Linked DNA regions of Homo sapiens: region 2 is linked to region 1. A link means that fine-mapping ties the variant in region 1 to the expression of a gene that starts in the linked region. Tissue or cell type: whole blood. Region 1 holds a variant in brackets; the other region holds the start of a gene. All regions are shown on one strand. Distances are between the middles of the regions.

The links. PIP is the estimated chance that this variant, and not a neighbour inherited with it, causes the effect.
Region 2: it holds the start of CPD, and the variant in region 1 is fine-mapped to the expression of CPD in whole blood (TOPMed, PIP above 0.99).

The regions. Positions count from the first base shown.
Region 1 is chr17:30,223,292-30,231,398 of GRCh38, forward strand. The region is part of intron 1 of SLC6A4 (solute carrier family 6 member 4); the gene reads right to left. Among named protein-coding and RNA genes, the nearest start is that of SLC6A4, 8.4 kb to the right of the region's middle. RefSeq lists a silencer at 2,606-2,806. The variant T/A (reference allele first, on the strand shown) is at 4,373.
Region 2 is chr17:30,374,998-30,383,104 of GRCh38, forward strand. CPD (carboxypeptidase D) reads left to right here and starts at 3,930. Exons shown (of 21, transcript NM_001304.5): 1 at 3,930-4,729. The coding sequence starts at 3,984. RefSeq lists enhancers at 1,656-1,945, 2,196-2,245, 3,516-3,685, 3,831-4,758 and silencers at 3,736-3,975, 4,276-4,405.

The sequences.
Region 1 (8,107 bases):
TGTTTATAACTGCAATGATCTGAGGCTAACCCTCCAGATCCAACAGTTAGGAGGATGGCTAGGAACTGGCTAATAGAAATGGCGCATGGATGTCTCCTACCTATTTGGGGTTTTTGGTGACTGCAACTTAGCTACCTACACATGTGAAGACAAAAACATAGTAAGTGAAAAATCAGGACACAAAATAGTAGCTTCACAAGAATGACTATGGCTATAAACATGAGCAAGGATTAGACATGAACACCAGGCAATGTCAGTCACTAGGGTTTGGCGTTTGCTGCATTTTTTCTGTAAAGTGGAAAATAAAAATTTTAAAGGGATCGATTGTTGCCAAAAATATCTACAGCAACAAGAGATAAATCAGCTTCATGTAGCTAGGGGCTGTGTGTGTGTAAGGGGAGGTAGACGTCTTGGGCTGTACCGCACTTGTTGGGCCCTCCGCCACCCACCCCAGGCTCAAGAATGCAAACACCACTCAGAAGGATATGAATTCTGACAAGAGCGGTCTCCATAACCTCACCCTGCTCACCATTTATGCTACTGCCTGGCCTTGGCCTCCCCCCACTTCCCCCTTCCTTCGGCCCTCAACTAGGCTTGATAGGCTTTTAAAATAACCACACATCCTCTCACCCACCATAGGTAACCATTTACCAGGCCAAGGGATATTATTATTTTATTACATGATGAGATGTCAACATATTTAAATATTCAGCTAAATTAAACCTGAACTTGGTAGTCAGTGGTTGTGTTGTTTAAAAAGGCCTCTGTACTTCCCTCCGGCCTATATCAATGACATGTTTTGTACGTTAAACAACTGACGAACTTGAAGGCCAAATGGCAGGGAGGAAGAGCTTTTCCCTGTGCGGCTGGAGGGCACCGAGTTGACAGAGCTGCTCCTTCCCTTGCTCTTCCTCCCACTGGCCCCACAGTTTTGTTTTTTTTTTTTTGAAACAGTCTTGCTCTGTTGCCCAGGCTGGTGTGCAGTGGCACAATTTTGGCTCACTGCAACCTCTGCCTCCCGGGTTCAAGCGATTCTTGTGCCTCAGCCTCCGAGTAGCTGGGACTACAGGCGTGCTCCACCATGCCCGGCTAATTTTTATATTTTTAGTAGAGATGGGGTTTCACTATGTTGGCCAGGATGGTCTTGAACTCCTGACCTCACATGATCCACCCGCCTTGGCCTCCCAAAGAGCTGAGATCACAGGTGTGAGACACCATGCCTGGCCTGGCCCCACAATTTTCTGCAAGAACCTCTTCTATTTTCTGTACTGCCACTTTCCTCTCACTTAAATAGAAGCTCCAATTGCATCACCCAAGCGTTCCCTGGCCTCTCTACCCAGGCCCAGAGGGTCTACGGAAGGGAAATGCGGTCCATCTCAGAAGCAATACTTTGGGGAGAGGAAATAGACATTTAGCAGCAGCAGTGAGCAGTTACCCTCCTGCCTCAGGGGCCAAATGATTTGTTCTGGATTTTGTTTACTTTCTTCCTTGAGGCGTCCTGCAGAGAGGGTAGAAAATGTGTGCAGGTAGGTAGATTTTTGAGGGCAACGTGTGTTCTCAGGAGTCCTCAGGGGTTCAGCCCCGAAGGCATCCAGTCCTGAATTCCTGGCAACTATGGTAAGCAGCTCCTGGAAGAGTAATACGCTGTTTCTATTTGTGTTCTGAGCCATTACAGAGGTCTTGTTTCCTGAAATATCCCCTAGTTCTTCTTAATTTTTTAATTAAAAAATTTTACATCAACAGGCTGAAATGGCCCCAGTGCAAGAAAACCCAGAGCATCCCTCAGACAACTCATGACCGGGCAGCCTCTCCCCACAGGCTGTCTCTCTCTATCCAGCTGTGCTTTCTGGGGTTCTCCTACTGAACCCCCACCCTCATCATAGAATCTGGGGTGCAAACACAAAGTTACAGCCACTCAGAGGAGACACACATCTCCTTTTCTTAACTTACTCCTCTGCCTCTGCCAGGTAGAGGAAAACTCCTCTCGGTGACTAATCGGGTCTGCCAGGAGAAGATGCCATGTGCCCGGGGCCCTTTCTGCCTGCAAGCTCCTGCCTGTGGAGCCCCAGACTCTCTTCCTATTTTTTCTGATTCTGCAGAGCCCTGGCTGGCTTTTTCTATCAAGACTTGCACATAACAATGGCTGAAAACAAGCTGGCCCAGGAATAGAGAAGTGTGAGTTGTTAAGAAGGTTGGTTTCTGAGAATGCCCTCTTCTAAGCTTTCTTTTTTTAAAAGGTATTTTTATCCTGCTGGGTGGAAAGATTGCAAACGAGGTCAATATTACAGCTGTGACCTTCTCCAGGCAGTCTTTGAGTTTCTCCATGTCCAGAAAAAGCCCCAGAAGGAAGCCTTCCTTTGCATCTTGGATGTGTGCTGTTGTTCCAGGCTGAGCTGGTGACAGGCTGAGGGTGGTGCCGTGGACCCCACCTCTGCTGTGGAATGACAGCTGGCAGACAGAAGCTTCGTCCCCCTAGGTCTCTGCACATGAGGGGTGCAGTTGACCAGCCAATGGGAGTGGTTGACTTTCTCTTAACTCTCCTGAAGCTAATGCACTCCATTCCCCCAATCCCTGACTCCAAGTAAAAAAGGACTGTTTCTATTTAAACTTCTGATCGAATCTCCATTCCTCTTTCCACACACTTTGTCTCTATAGCCAGGAGCAACCCGTACCTGAACAAGCATGTAATTATCCCGATTGGTCATAAACACCCAGCCCTTTGGAAATGCCTGTGACGCTCCATCTACTTGATGCCTATCAGTGCCTTCTAAGCAGAAAGACACTACAGAAATGTTGAACTTTGACTTCATGTGTCAAGATCAAAGTGAGTTCATTTCTCAGGAAACTCAACTTTCTTTCTCAAAACAAACAAAAACAAATGAACTGTGGGTTTAACGTTGAGATAGGATTAGTTACAGGTCATAGAGCCAACTGGCAGTTCGTATCCTCTATTCAGAGGGAGGCTGAAGTTCCCAGGGCATCTCCCAAGAGTGATGGGAATTATGGAACGCTGGTGCCGCCCGAAGCAGTAAACATGGAATCTGGCCTTCTTCATGGAGAAGCACTCCCTCAGCAAAGATGTGCGTAGGCCCACATGTGCTCGGCTCCTCAGAAACAAGGCAGGCAAGCCGGGCCAGCTGGCTCACGCCTGTAATCCCAGCACTTTGGGAAGCCAAGGCGGGCGGATCACCTGAGGTCAGGAGTTTGAGACCAGCGTGGCCAGCATGGTGAAATCCTGTCTCTACTAAAAATACAAAAAGTAGCTGGGTGTGGTGGCGGGTGCCTGTAATCTCAGCTACTTGTGAGGCTGAGGCAGGAGAATTGCCTGAACCCAGGAAGCGGAGGTTGCAGTGAGCTGAGATTGAGCCACTACACTTCAGCCTGAGTGACAAGAGTGAAACTCTGTCTCAAATAAATAAATAAAAATAAAAATACAAAAAATGAGCCGGGCGTGGTGGTGCATGTCTGTAATCCCAGCTACTCAGAAGACTGATGCATGAGAATCGCCTGAACCTGGGAGGCAGAGGTTACAGTCAGCCAAACTGCGCTCCAGCCTGGGCGATAGAGTGAGACTCTGTCTCAAAAAAAAAAGAAAAAGAAAGAAAAAAGAAACAAGGCAGGCACAGTCCTGCCTGCATGGAGTCCACAGGCCAAGCCTAAAATCTGAAAAAGAAAACCAACTGCTAGGAAAAACACGATGCTTCTGGAGAGGCTGGTGCTGCCACACATCCCGTGGTGAACAGAGGCTGCCGCTGGCTCGCCGCGGCGTGTTTAGATAGCTCACATGTTTTGCACCACAGTTGCCCCCAGGCTTTAAGTCTTCCTTTGCTGCTATTGCACAGTTTCTCTCACAGGACCTTGGCTGTTGGCTGATCCTTCCTTGCAGGCTCTGCAGTGTAAAATGGGGGCTCACGTTTGCATCTGCTGAAGGCACTGCTGTGTTCCCGAAGTGTGCAGGGTCATGGGGGCACAGGTCGGAAGCCATAGGGACTCCTGCCTTGCCTTTCCAATGAATTGAAGAGATTTCATGATAGAAATGAAGAGAATAGAGAAAATCTGCTTGTTTTTTTTTTGGACAAAAAGGGTAGAAATGAACTCCACTATCACAGCCATCTCCTTATCCAAAGGATTCCTCATATGACAGAGTCAGTTTAGTGTTTTTTCTGTTCCTTTGTGTGTGTGTTTGTGTGTGTGTGTGTGTTGTTTTTTTAAGAGACAGAGTCTTGCACTGTCATCCAGGCTGGAGTGCAGTGGCATGATCATGGCTCTCTGCAGCCTCAACCTCCCGGGCTCAAGGAATCCTCCCACCTCAGGCTCCCGAGTAGCTGAGATTACAGGTGTGTGCCACCACACCCAGCTAATTTTTTGTATT[T/A]TTTTCAGAGATGGGGTTTCACCATGTTGCCCAGGTTGGTCTTGAACTCCTGGCCTATGAGCAATCCTCCCGCCTTGGCCTCCCAAAGTGCTGGGATTACAGGCATGATCCACTGCACCCAGCCTGGTTTAATTTTTTGGAGAGGAATTAAATAGGATAAAATCCTCAGGGCCATTTGGGCCAGTTATCATGAGAAAGAAAAAGAATTTCTGTCCAGAACTTTCCCTGCCTGGGAGAGGATAGCCCTGGGCTTCTCTCTACACAGAGTATAAAATCTAGAGGATATGCCCCTTGTGATGGGGTCAAGGTCCCCCTGAGAGGCTGGCCAAAAGGATACTGGATTATTTATTTTGACTTTACTAGAAAGAAATGAATTTAGCATAGCAGATGTGAACAGCCCTCCTCCAGTGAATATAAACAGCCAAGCCCAGACTAACTTCCTTCCAGAGTCATCTTTCATTAGTTCCTCTGTTCACAACCCATAGCTCTCCTTTCTGTTTCAGGTCTGCACTGGAATCCCTGGTCCACCACTTAATGGCTGTGTGACTTTGAGTAGGTCACTTAACCTCTCTTAGCTTCCATTTCCTCCTGTGTAAAAGCAGACTGTTAAAACCGCTACTTCCTAAAGGCTGTCGTGGGAATTAAAGTATGACACATGCTTATCTCAGTGTCTAGCACAGGGAAGCATCAATAAATGACAGTGAGTTGATGTCACTATCACCACCATACATCCGCAACCCATTGTGCCTTTCTACTTCATACCCTAGCAGGGAAACTGAGGCCCACAAGACTTGGGACTTAAGTGATCTGTGGCTCCCAGCACGGGCCTCACTGGGTCATGCTTGCTGCTCTCAATCAGTGCTTGGGGTCACCTGGGAAACAGACTCCTGGGCTGCTCTCCCAGAGATTCTAATTCAAGAGATCCACGTGGGCACTCAGGGATCTGCAGTTTTTAACAAATACCGCAGGTTATTCAGGGGCCAGTAGGCACCAACAGTGCCGTGTGCGTCCCCACCTGTAGCTTCCCTTCCTCTAATTATCCTGCACCCTCCAAGGCCTGGCATAAGCTTCTATCCACCTCCTCTCAGCACTCCAGCCCAAGATACACTCTTTCTACTCAATTCTCATTTGTCACTCGCCATTGATTACCAGGCATCATTAGTTATCCTTTTATATACATTTGCTTCGTGTGCCCCTGGAAGCAGGGGCTATGGCTACACGTCCCTGAGTCCAAATACTTGCAGACTGGAGCACGCCCTGTACAGCTCTCAGCATGGAGGGCTTGTTTTGGGTTTCCTGACTGGGCGAGGGTGCCAACAGATCTGAGCTCCATGTGAGGTGCTGCTCTTTCTCTCCTCCCTGGAGTTAAGTCAAATGGGATCAGGGTTCTATTCTAAGGGGCCCTGTCCCTCCCTGCCTCACCCATCGGGAAGATTGGCTGTGCATCTTGTGGGCAGAGGAGGAGGGCTGCCTTAACAGTCATTTTCATGGACTATGGACAGGAAGAGACTGACATGCCCAGGATTAAAGAGCCCGGGATGGGCTTTCAGACTTTGAAACAAGTACTGGCAGGCACACCCATCAGCGGTCTGGGCTCCAAATGTTCATCTGTGAGCTGGTGGTTTGGAACTTAGAATATATTTCCTAACCCACAGAAATAAATGTGATAAACTAAAACATCTGAAACGAAAGCTGTAGAACACAGCGTTGTTAAGTGCTACACGACGGCTTAGGGGTGGGGAGGGGGCTGACAATGAGACTGATTCGAAGTTCTTTCTTTATTTTAACCTTCTTTTTGGTTCTTAAGGAAAACTAAATTTAAGGAAAGAAGAACAAGGAGCAGGGAGATCCTTGTACAGATTCCACGGAGGTGTCTTTTAGGCACTTTTGAGGTCTTTAGTTTTGTTTGTTGTTCAATTTTAAAATACACAGTAGAGATGAGATCTCGCTATGTTGCCCAGGCTGGTCTTGAACTCCTGGACTCCAGCGATCCTCCTGCCTCAGCCTCCCAAAGTGCTGAGATTACAGCATGAGCCACTGCGCCTGGTCCAAGTTCTTTAGAAGTTGATGACATGGGCTGGGCGCAGTGTCACATGCCTGTAATCCCAGCACTTTGGGAGGCCAAGGTGGGCGGATCACCTGAGGTCAGAGTTCGAGACCAGCCTGATCAACATGGAGAAACCCTGTCTCTACTAAAAATACAAAAATTAGCCAGGCATGGTGGCGCATGCCTGTAATACCAGCCTTTTAGAGGCTGAGGCAGGAGAATAGCTTGAACCCAGGAGGCAGAGGTTGTGGTGAGCTGAGATCGGGCCATTGCACTCCAGCCTGGACAACAGGAGCGAAACTCCATCTCAAAAAAGAAGAAGAAGAAAAAGAAGAAAGAAGAAGAAGAAGAAGAAGAAGAAGAAGAAGAAGAAGAAGAAGAAGAAGAGGAGGAAGAGGAAGAGGAAGAGGAAGAGGAGGAGGAGGAGGAGGAGGAGGAGGAAGAGGAAGAGGAAGAAGAAGAAGTTGGTGACATGAATTGCTTGTGACACATAATTTCACAACTTACAACTTTTTGCAGAAAACAAAACTGCTTTTACTCTGTTACCATAGTATATTTAAATGTGGACGAGGCTGGGAAAGAGACTTGAGAAACTCAAAACAGATGATGTGTTAGATTAATCAGGATTAGGAGTGTCACTTCACCTTCCAAACACTCCTTTACTGTTGTGATAAATACAATTTATGCAATAAGTAAAAATCGAGATAGAACACATGGGAACATGTCCACACACAGCTTTTCTTTTCCTTTATACAGGTATGTTACTAAGATTACCTTTGTGTAAAACAGACATGATTGGGTCCACAAAGGGACCCAAAACAGAGAGAAGAGAGGAAAAAACAACCCCAGGGAGAGGGTGCTATGAAATAAGGGTGGATTCACCTGTGGCTGCTGAGCAAGGCGGAAGAGGGAAGTGGGGAAAAGGGGGTTTGAAGTGGAACTACAAAATAAAATGGGAGTGGAGAAGAGAAAAGAGAGGGGAAACTGGCCCATTTCTCTGGGTGGGGCATGGAGGGGAGAAGGAGAGGTGAGGTCAGGTGAGGTGAGGCTGCTGGAGGAGACGGGTGCATCCAGGTGGAGAGGGGGCGCGGAGGACACGTGCAACCACCTCTTCAGCCACAAGGTGTTTGGAGTTTGGCTGTTGCTGCTCAAAGGTGCCTATACTCTTAGGTCAACAATTTCTGAGATGTGCTTTAGTGTGAGTCACACAGTTGGAGACACTCATGAAAAATCAGTTCATCCTTACACATCATTGCACCAGTCTAGTTCTCAGATATGCACTGAGATGAGAGCAAGAAAAACTTTCTGACCCCTAGTTTACAGTCTCACAGAGTAACACTGTATGCTAAAAAGGACATCATTGAGACAGCGGGGGAAATGGGAATATGAGCTGTATGTGCGATAATAGTATTGTATCTATCTCCAGTTTCCCCAGCATGAAAATGGCGCTGTGGTTACGTACAAGAAGGTCCTTGTTTGTTGGAAATCTGTGTTGAAGTATTTAAGGAAGAAGTATCTGGAAGTCTGCAAACTCTCAAAGGTTCAACTATATATATTAGTTGAACCTATATATATAGTATATATATACCTGTATGTATACCTACAGATATATATATACACACTATATATATCTGTAGGTATACATACAGATACATATAGTTTATATATACATATAGTGTATACAGACA
Region 2 (8,107 bases), 150 kb after region 1:
ACAAACAGCTCTGTAAGTTTTCCATTTGCTTTGGAATAAAGCAAAACCCCATTAGTGTGGTATTCAAAGCCTTCATCTACTTCTAGTCTTTGCAGGCATGGCTTCTGCTGCTCTTCCTAACACATCTTGTATTCCAGCCACCAGTCACGAAATCCCTCTCTGTGCATCTATCCTTGCTGGTCTCTCTGCCTGGAGTGCTCTTTTCTCCATTTTTACCATTTGAGAATTTCTATTATTAAAAACAATAGAAATAACGGTGATTTCTGAACGCTTGTTATATGCCAAGTATTATATTAAATGTTATGTATGTATTATTTCTTTTAATTTTCAGAGAAATGAAGTAACTTGCCCTGGTTACAATGGCTGAAAAGGGACTGATCCAGGATTTGAACTTGGTTCTGCTGTTGAAGAGCATGATCAAGCAGTATTGGTGACGTTTTCTCTGACTCTTCATTATTTTTATTTTTAATTTCTTTTATTTATTTATTTTGTATTTTTAGTAGAGACGGGGTTTCACCATGTTGACCGGGCTGGTCTTGAACTCCTGACCTCAGGTGACCTGCCCGCCTCGGCCTCCCAAAGTGCTGGGATTACAGGCTTGAGCCACCGAGGGAGGTGACTCTTCATTATAATGGCTTTTGTGTGTTCCAAAAACAGGTTTTTGTTTTTTGTTTTTTTAAGCTTACTATATAGAAACAGTTTTATTACAGAATTTAAGCACACAGACTCTGAAGTCACACTCCCCAGGTTTGAGTCTTGGATCTGTGGCTTGCCAGCTGTGTGACCTCATGTCTCCTCTCTTTATCTTTGAAATGGGAATGATAATAGCACCAGCCTCATAGGACTGTTGTGAAGATGAAATGAGTCAACCAATGTAAAGGGTTTTGCACAGTGCCTGTTATGTAACTCTTGTCCAGCAGACACATCCAGTCCTGTGTTGTGTCTATGTTCTGTGTCCCTTCCTAGATTCTGTCCTCTGGGAGGGGAGAGATCCCCTTCATTCATTTTCCAATCCTCCTGTACCTGGCACAACAGACCTTTCGCCAGATTGGGTGCTCCACAAACATTTGTCAAATTGAATTTGTAAATCTGCAGGTGTTTGTGCTGGACAATGAGACACTTACAAGTTCCCGGTCTATGCTATGCTTTAATTACCTACGAATCTTGTGAAGAAAATGGTTCTTGAATCAGGCTGGTCATCTAAAAGCTTTTGCCCTGTTTTTAAAAAATCCACGTCAATTCTTTGTCATTTCTTGGTGCTAGAAACATTTCAAATCTCTTTGAGCTAAATGAGGTGATGGCTATCCAGAATGTCCTGGTTTGATCATAATATATTGTATGCATGTATCAAAATATCAAATGTATCCCATAAATATGTACAATTATCATGTATCAAATACAAAAATTAAAAAAAAAAATCCAAGTCATTGCCACTCTGCTTCTGTGAACAGGAAGCCTTTTTACCTTCAAGCCTTTCCCAAGTCCCTTCCATTTGTAAGGCCACACCTTTTCCTTGGGGAAAGAGGAAAGAAACACCTGTCATAAGGTTCAAGACTTCTCAGACACAATTGGAGGTATTCAGCTGTAGGTAAACACAAACCTGTAGGTAAACACAAAAGTGACTGAGGTCCAGAGCTTTGGGTTTCACTTATAACCATAAGCAACTGTGTACCTGCTAAGGAAGAAGGCTGCAGACCTGAAAGAGGCCCACGGAAGGCCTGGGGATTTCTGAGAGGACACCGGCTCAAGTTACATTCCCATATTATTTCACCACCCTCATGCTTGTTTATTTACATTTCAGGCTGCCTCTCTAGGCGAGGCTGCAGGAGTGAAGGGGCTGGAAGAGGTTTCAAAGGAGAGTGAACGTGGTAGAAAAGGAAATATTTGATTAGAAGTTAACATGTCCTCTGGGGCTTCTTTGACTTGGATTACTGTAAAAGTGCATGGTGTAATAGTTGAGCACTCCCGGGAGGTGGTGGGCGGTCTCTCTGTACAGAGTTGTGGCTTTGTTTCTGATGAGTTGCAGCTGCTGTGCATAATGTAGACTAGATCAAATGGGGCATGGAGAAGAGCCATTCACAGGACCGGAGTGACGGTGCTCGCTCTGATGGCAGAATACTAAATTAATCATCTTCACCTAAACCTGTGCTTTCTCCTGGCCTGTACCTCAGTGAATACCTGCAAGTTGCTTAGGCTGTAACTTGAAGTCAGCCTACAATCCTCTTTGTCTCCAGATCCTGTCCACTTTCCTTTCCGAAGGTCTTTCAGATCCATTTCCTTCTTTCCACCTCCACTGGCACTGCCCTCATTCAGAGTCTCATCATGTCTTCCTGGATTGCAGCTTCCTTCCAGGTCTCTCAGCCTCAAGTCTTAGGCCTCCCATTCAATTTTCCGTGTTACTGTCAGAGGAATTTTTCTAAACTAGCTTAAAACCCGTCTGTGGTTCTCCATGGCCTTCCAGATCAAATGTGCTCCCTGAAGACTGGCCTGTGAGCCCCTTCACACCAGTAATCCTGACCCTGCATGCAATTCCCAGAACACAAGGCATTTGTTCTCAAATCCTGCGGCTTTCTTTGCTTGCTTCTCCTCCTGCCTGGGATCCTTCCCATCCTCCATGGTTTCTCTCCTCCTTTCCTCCTCCTCAAGTTCAGATATTTCCCTCACCTGTACCCCCTCTGTTGTAGCATTTATCACAAACTACACTGAATCTCTTGACTGGGCAGAAGAATGAATTGTTTCCCAGCATCTAGCTTTGACATAAAAGTTGCTCAATAAATACTTGACGAATGAATGAACTCTATTAAAGTAGGGTTCAGTCATAGTTCAGGGAAGGGGCCCTGAAATAGCTGGCTCTGAAAGAAGGTAATGCCGGTTATTGCGATTATGTTGTTAGATGGGTAGAATTTCGCATTCGATTAAGGGATAGTTTTGGGTTTCTTCAAGCTAAAGAAACTAAAGCCTATAAAAGGTGATTTAAAAGACCTCTTCTCTAGACTTGATGAAACGCTGTAATTGCCATCTTTGGCTGACACTGAGGAGTTCAGGAATGCCAAGCAAGTGTTTCCAGAAATGTCAAACCTGCTGTTTTAAAATATGTCATTCCAGGGCACAGTTAAATATACAACTTGCTCCGATGAGGTGGGAGAAGTGGGCCGGTGAGCTGTGAAATGAAATCTGCCTAATGAGGGTCGAGGCCAGCACACACAGGGACCTATTTGCAGTAAAACAACGTGGGGTGACGCCTAAGAAATAGACAACATTAACACAAAGGGAGCCTACTACGTAGCACATTTCCGCTAGGCATAAAAGAGACACCTTTCCAGAAAGCAACTCTAAAAATGAATGCACCGCCTAGTGAGGTGCGAGCCTTCCTCCCCACGAGGCGTCCCGTGCAACCGCACGCGGACAGCGGGGCTCCAGCGGAGGCGGGGTGGATGCGGAGACAAGGCGCCTAGGAGACTGGGCTAAGGCTTTGAGTGTCCGAACGAAGATTCTTTCGAACCTATTGATTTTTTCTAGTCTTATGATTCTTTCGAACCTTTTGATTCTTTCCATTCTCGGTTCTAAGCATTAAAGCGCAGCTGAGAAAGGCAGCAACAAAGATGGGAAGAGAACTAGCAGGAGTTCTCAGAGAAAAATGGGTGATAATTTAGGGGAGAAGCCATAAAGAAGAGACTAAGCGAGAAGCGGAGCACACGCAGAAGACGAAACAAGGAGGAGGAGAAGAGAAGAAGAACCTTGGCGAAGGAAGAGAGTGACCAAACTCGTCCCGGACGGGAGGAGGGCAGGCCCGCCCAGAGGGAATCGGCTGCTTTAAGGGAAGCCCCGCCCCCTGGTGGTGACGCTCCACCAGGCCCGTCCGCGATTGGCTGCGGCCAGAGGGCGGGATGGGGTTGCTAGGCGAGGAGGGGATCCGGCGGGCCCCCGCCGCCCGGAGCGCTGAGCCGCGGGAGCGGAGCCGGGGTTAGCGGCGCTGCTGGAAGATGGCGAGCGGCCGGGACGAGCGGCCGCCTTGGCGGCTAGGGCGGCTCCTGTTGCTCATGTGCCTGCTGCTGCTGGGGAGCTCGGCCCGGGCGGCTCACATCAAGAAGGCGGAGGCGACTACCACAACTACGAGCGCGGGCGCCGAGGCGGCCGAGGGCCAGTTCGACCGCTACTACCACGAAGAGGAGTTGGAGTCGGCGCTGAGGGAGGCGGCGGCCGCGGGCCTCCCCGGCCTGGCCCGCCTCTTTAGCATCGGCCGCTCGGTGGAAGGCCGGCCGCTGTGGGTGCTTCGCCTCACCGCCGGCCTGGGGTCGCTAATCCCTGAGGGCGACGCGGGGCCTGACGCTGCCGGGCCCGACGCTGCGGGGCCGCTGCTGCCCGGCCGGCCCCAGGTGAAGCTGGTGGGCAACATGCATGGCGACGAGACCGTGTCGCGCCAGGTGTTGATCTACTTGGCCCGCGAGCTGGCGGCCGGCTACCGCCGCGGGGACCCGCGCCTGGTCCGCCTGCTCAACACCACCGACGTGTACCTGCTGCCCAGCCTCAACCCCGATGGCTTCGAGCGTGCCCGCGAGGGCGACTGTGGCTTCGGCGACGGCGGCCCGTCCGGGGCCAGCGGCCGCGACAATAGTCGCGGCCGCGACCTCAACCGAAGCTTTCCCGACCAGTTTAGCACCGGCGAACCCCCCGCCCTGGACGAGGTGCCCGAGGTGCGCGCCCTCATCGAGTGGATCCGCAGGAACAAGTGAGTGTTGCCTGCCCCCTCCCCGTCCGTGTGAGCCTCCAAGGGCCGAGGCTGGTTCCGGCACCCAGTAGGCGCTCAGACAATGCTGGCATAAGGGGTGGCGGTGGTGAAGGTGAAGGGAGACACCCTGTAACGGGGACAGGGCCCAGGCCGCGTAGCCTCCCGTCCTGCTAATCATCAAAGAATTGCCTCCTAGAGGCTGTCATTTGTTCAAGGGATGGCTGGAGGGGACACTCCTTTCTGACATTTCTGGTCCCTATTCTTACAGGGGCATAGAATATGAGCGAGAAGAGATCTTAAGGATAACCTAGGTCAGCTCACACATTTTATAGATAAGCTGTCAATGTTGTTATCTTATATCAAAAGTGCCTAATGTTATAGGCGCTGTGCTAATTTTTTCTGTGACTGCAGTATCTCACTTTATTTTGGCCACAACCTGATGTCATAGACACCATCAGTTTTGCATACGGGGAAATTGAGGGTCAGATTGGTTAACTGATTTACATAGGAGTGTGGCTGGGACTTAGAATTAGGCAATCTGATTCCCGATAGTCCTCTTAGCCACGGAGGGACACTGGAGCCCAAAAATGGCAGATGATATTCCCAGGATCTTCCCCTTGCCTATTTGACAGAAGCTGATTTTTCTCCAATTTTTACCTCTGACTCAGCTTAAGAAGATATGGACTTAGCTGGAGAACTTGCACAGATCTGTGAGCCGCTTCATTTTAGACTCTGAAGGGTTTGTGATGTCATTTGTGCACCTTATTAGCCTGGGCAGAATGGCTAATGGTCACACTTCTAATACACACTTTAAGTGTTATTAAGCATTGCATGAGGTTTAAAAAATTACAAAGTAGAAGAAGGAGGACCTCAAGAAATTAGTATAAAACAAGAGAATGTTATAAATATTTATGAGGTATGTTGGTGTACCCAGTTAAACTTTACAGGAATTGTTCCCACTGGCAAGATGTGTGTGGGCTGCAATAACACGGACCATCTCTGTGGAAGAGGTAGAGCTTGAGCTATCTCCAGAGATGGGCAGGATTTTCAGCAAAAAGGAGAGGAATAAAATAAGAGGGAACTCACTCCAGATGGCATAGTGTCTGAAGTGAGCAGGCATCTCTTCCCCTTTTCTAGCATCAGCTTTTCCCCATTTTTGTATCTTCATAAGGCTTTTGAAGCAATAACTGATCATTCCATCTGGATTAAAAGAAGATTTCTGAGGGACTGCTAAGATAAAGAAGTTTCCCTGCGGGACTTGGAATCATTTCTTCTACAAGATTTCAGTCATATATAGAAGATCTAGAAAATTCTTGAGTGTTAGGACAGTTCCTGAGTCTTTTCGTCTTCTATCTTTTACTTTACTCCTCTTGATAAGCTCTCTTGTAGATATATAATTTCACATAGACTTTCTGGGAGGATTTTTTTTTCTTTTAAATACGATCGTGTCATCACCTCTGAACATCTGCGTAAGAAATATGACTTTGACATACACTTATTGACAGAGCTGTGATGGCCAGGGCTTTTTGGAGATGATACAACAAATGCACCGTTTGCATTGCTTAAATGTTTAAAATGCTCTGTCCTTGCACCTTTAAAATGCTGTGATCCTTGCAGGGATGTAAATTCTGTGCCTGGATTTTTCTTTTCAGTATTAGTTGTGCTGTGACCAAATATGAAAATAAGCTTTTTCTTGGTGCAAGTCGCCTTGAGGCTATACAGAGTCATTTTGGTCTGTGGCTGTGGACTACCCTAATCATATCTGTTCTTCAAATATGTAACTCTCATTAATCAAAAGGGAAAGTAGGTGATCATATATGGTAAAGAGTACATCCATCCTAACTCAGTCTTCAAGAATTCACTCAAAATGCGTACTCTGTGCTATTAACCAATAACAAAGGACACTGATATGTGAATAAAATTAAAAACACAAGCACACACACAATTTGATATTGATGCCTAAATATAGTGTCAACTTTATGGATGGGATATTTTTAAATACTCAAACATTAGTCTGTATGGGAAAACTACCTTTTTCAGTGTATTTTGTGAGGTAAACCATTTGAGTAATTTCTTGATATCCTATTCACCCAGCTATATTCGAATTAGATTTTTGTTGTTATTTCGAATATGTAAAATTTTAAGGCTTAATTTCCTCCAGCTTGGGAAAATGAAGTTTATTTTCTTTGTTTCACTTTATACTTCATCCAATGGATGTTGAGACAAATACTTAAGAAAATATATAAAAAAATTAACTTTATCATTCAAATGAAGATTTTATAGTTGACTCCTATTTTTTTATAGTTGACCGCTATGCTTCTTTAAGTGAATATACCTGCTTAAATTTTCATAGGTAATTAGCATATAAATGATATTTGAATGTGTTTGTGAAAAGCATTATTACAGTGTTGAGAGTGGGTGCAGATGATTTTTTTGGGGGCTTATGTATACATATCTATGATTGTCTGAATCTTTGAAATTTAGTTTGTCAGATATCAAGTTATCTTAATTTTTTTCAAGTTATCTACAGGGTTACCTGGATAGCGTAATAGAGTTAATTTAGAGATTAACTGTTTAATATTTATAAACTCATTTGTAATATCTCTAATATATTTACCAGCTACTTTAAATCTTATGCAAGGAATGATATGTGATACTGAAGTCAAGTATGAGAAACATTTCAGAGAATTGATTTGAATGGAAACCATAAAGTACCTGTCAAATAAGATTGGAGTTGATTTGCAAAGTTGATTTGACAAAAACTCAAAGCATAATCTTACAGCCATTGTAGTCACTTTCTCTTGAAATCTTCATTGTAAGAATGACACTGGTACTTTCAAAACTGTGTAATTACAGTAAGGAAAATCGAAGTGAATTTTATTACTCAAGTAGATTGCAAATATTTCATTGTTCAAAAGTATTTGATTAGGCCATTTTGACAATATTTCTGAGAAGTGTTGGAAGAAATGTTGAACAAAATGAGAAACAGCATTTTGTAGAGAATCTTGGATTTTAAAGTTTTACTTAACATGTGTAATTAAAGTAGCATGCTTTACTTATTTAGAATATTTAATTATCCATTTTATTTTACTAGAATATGAATGCCCAGAGGGTATTTGTTTGTTTGTTTCGCTCACAGATGTATCTATCCCTGGAATGTCCTTTGGGATGTATCTGTCCCTGAAACGTCATTTGGCAAATAGTTGACACTCAAGAAATGTTTGTTGCCGAATGGATTACCTGACCTGCCCCAGCCTTCTTATAACTTTCCCAGAGTCAGTGGGGGAAAAATACTTAAAAATTGTTTTAGAATTACAAACCAGAGAGTAAATTGTTAATACCTTAGCTATAGGGGAGAGGTGGTTAGAGTGGAGTTAG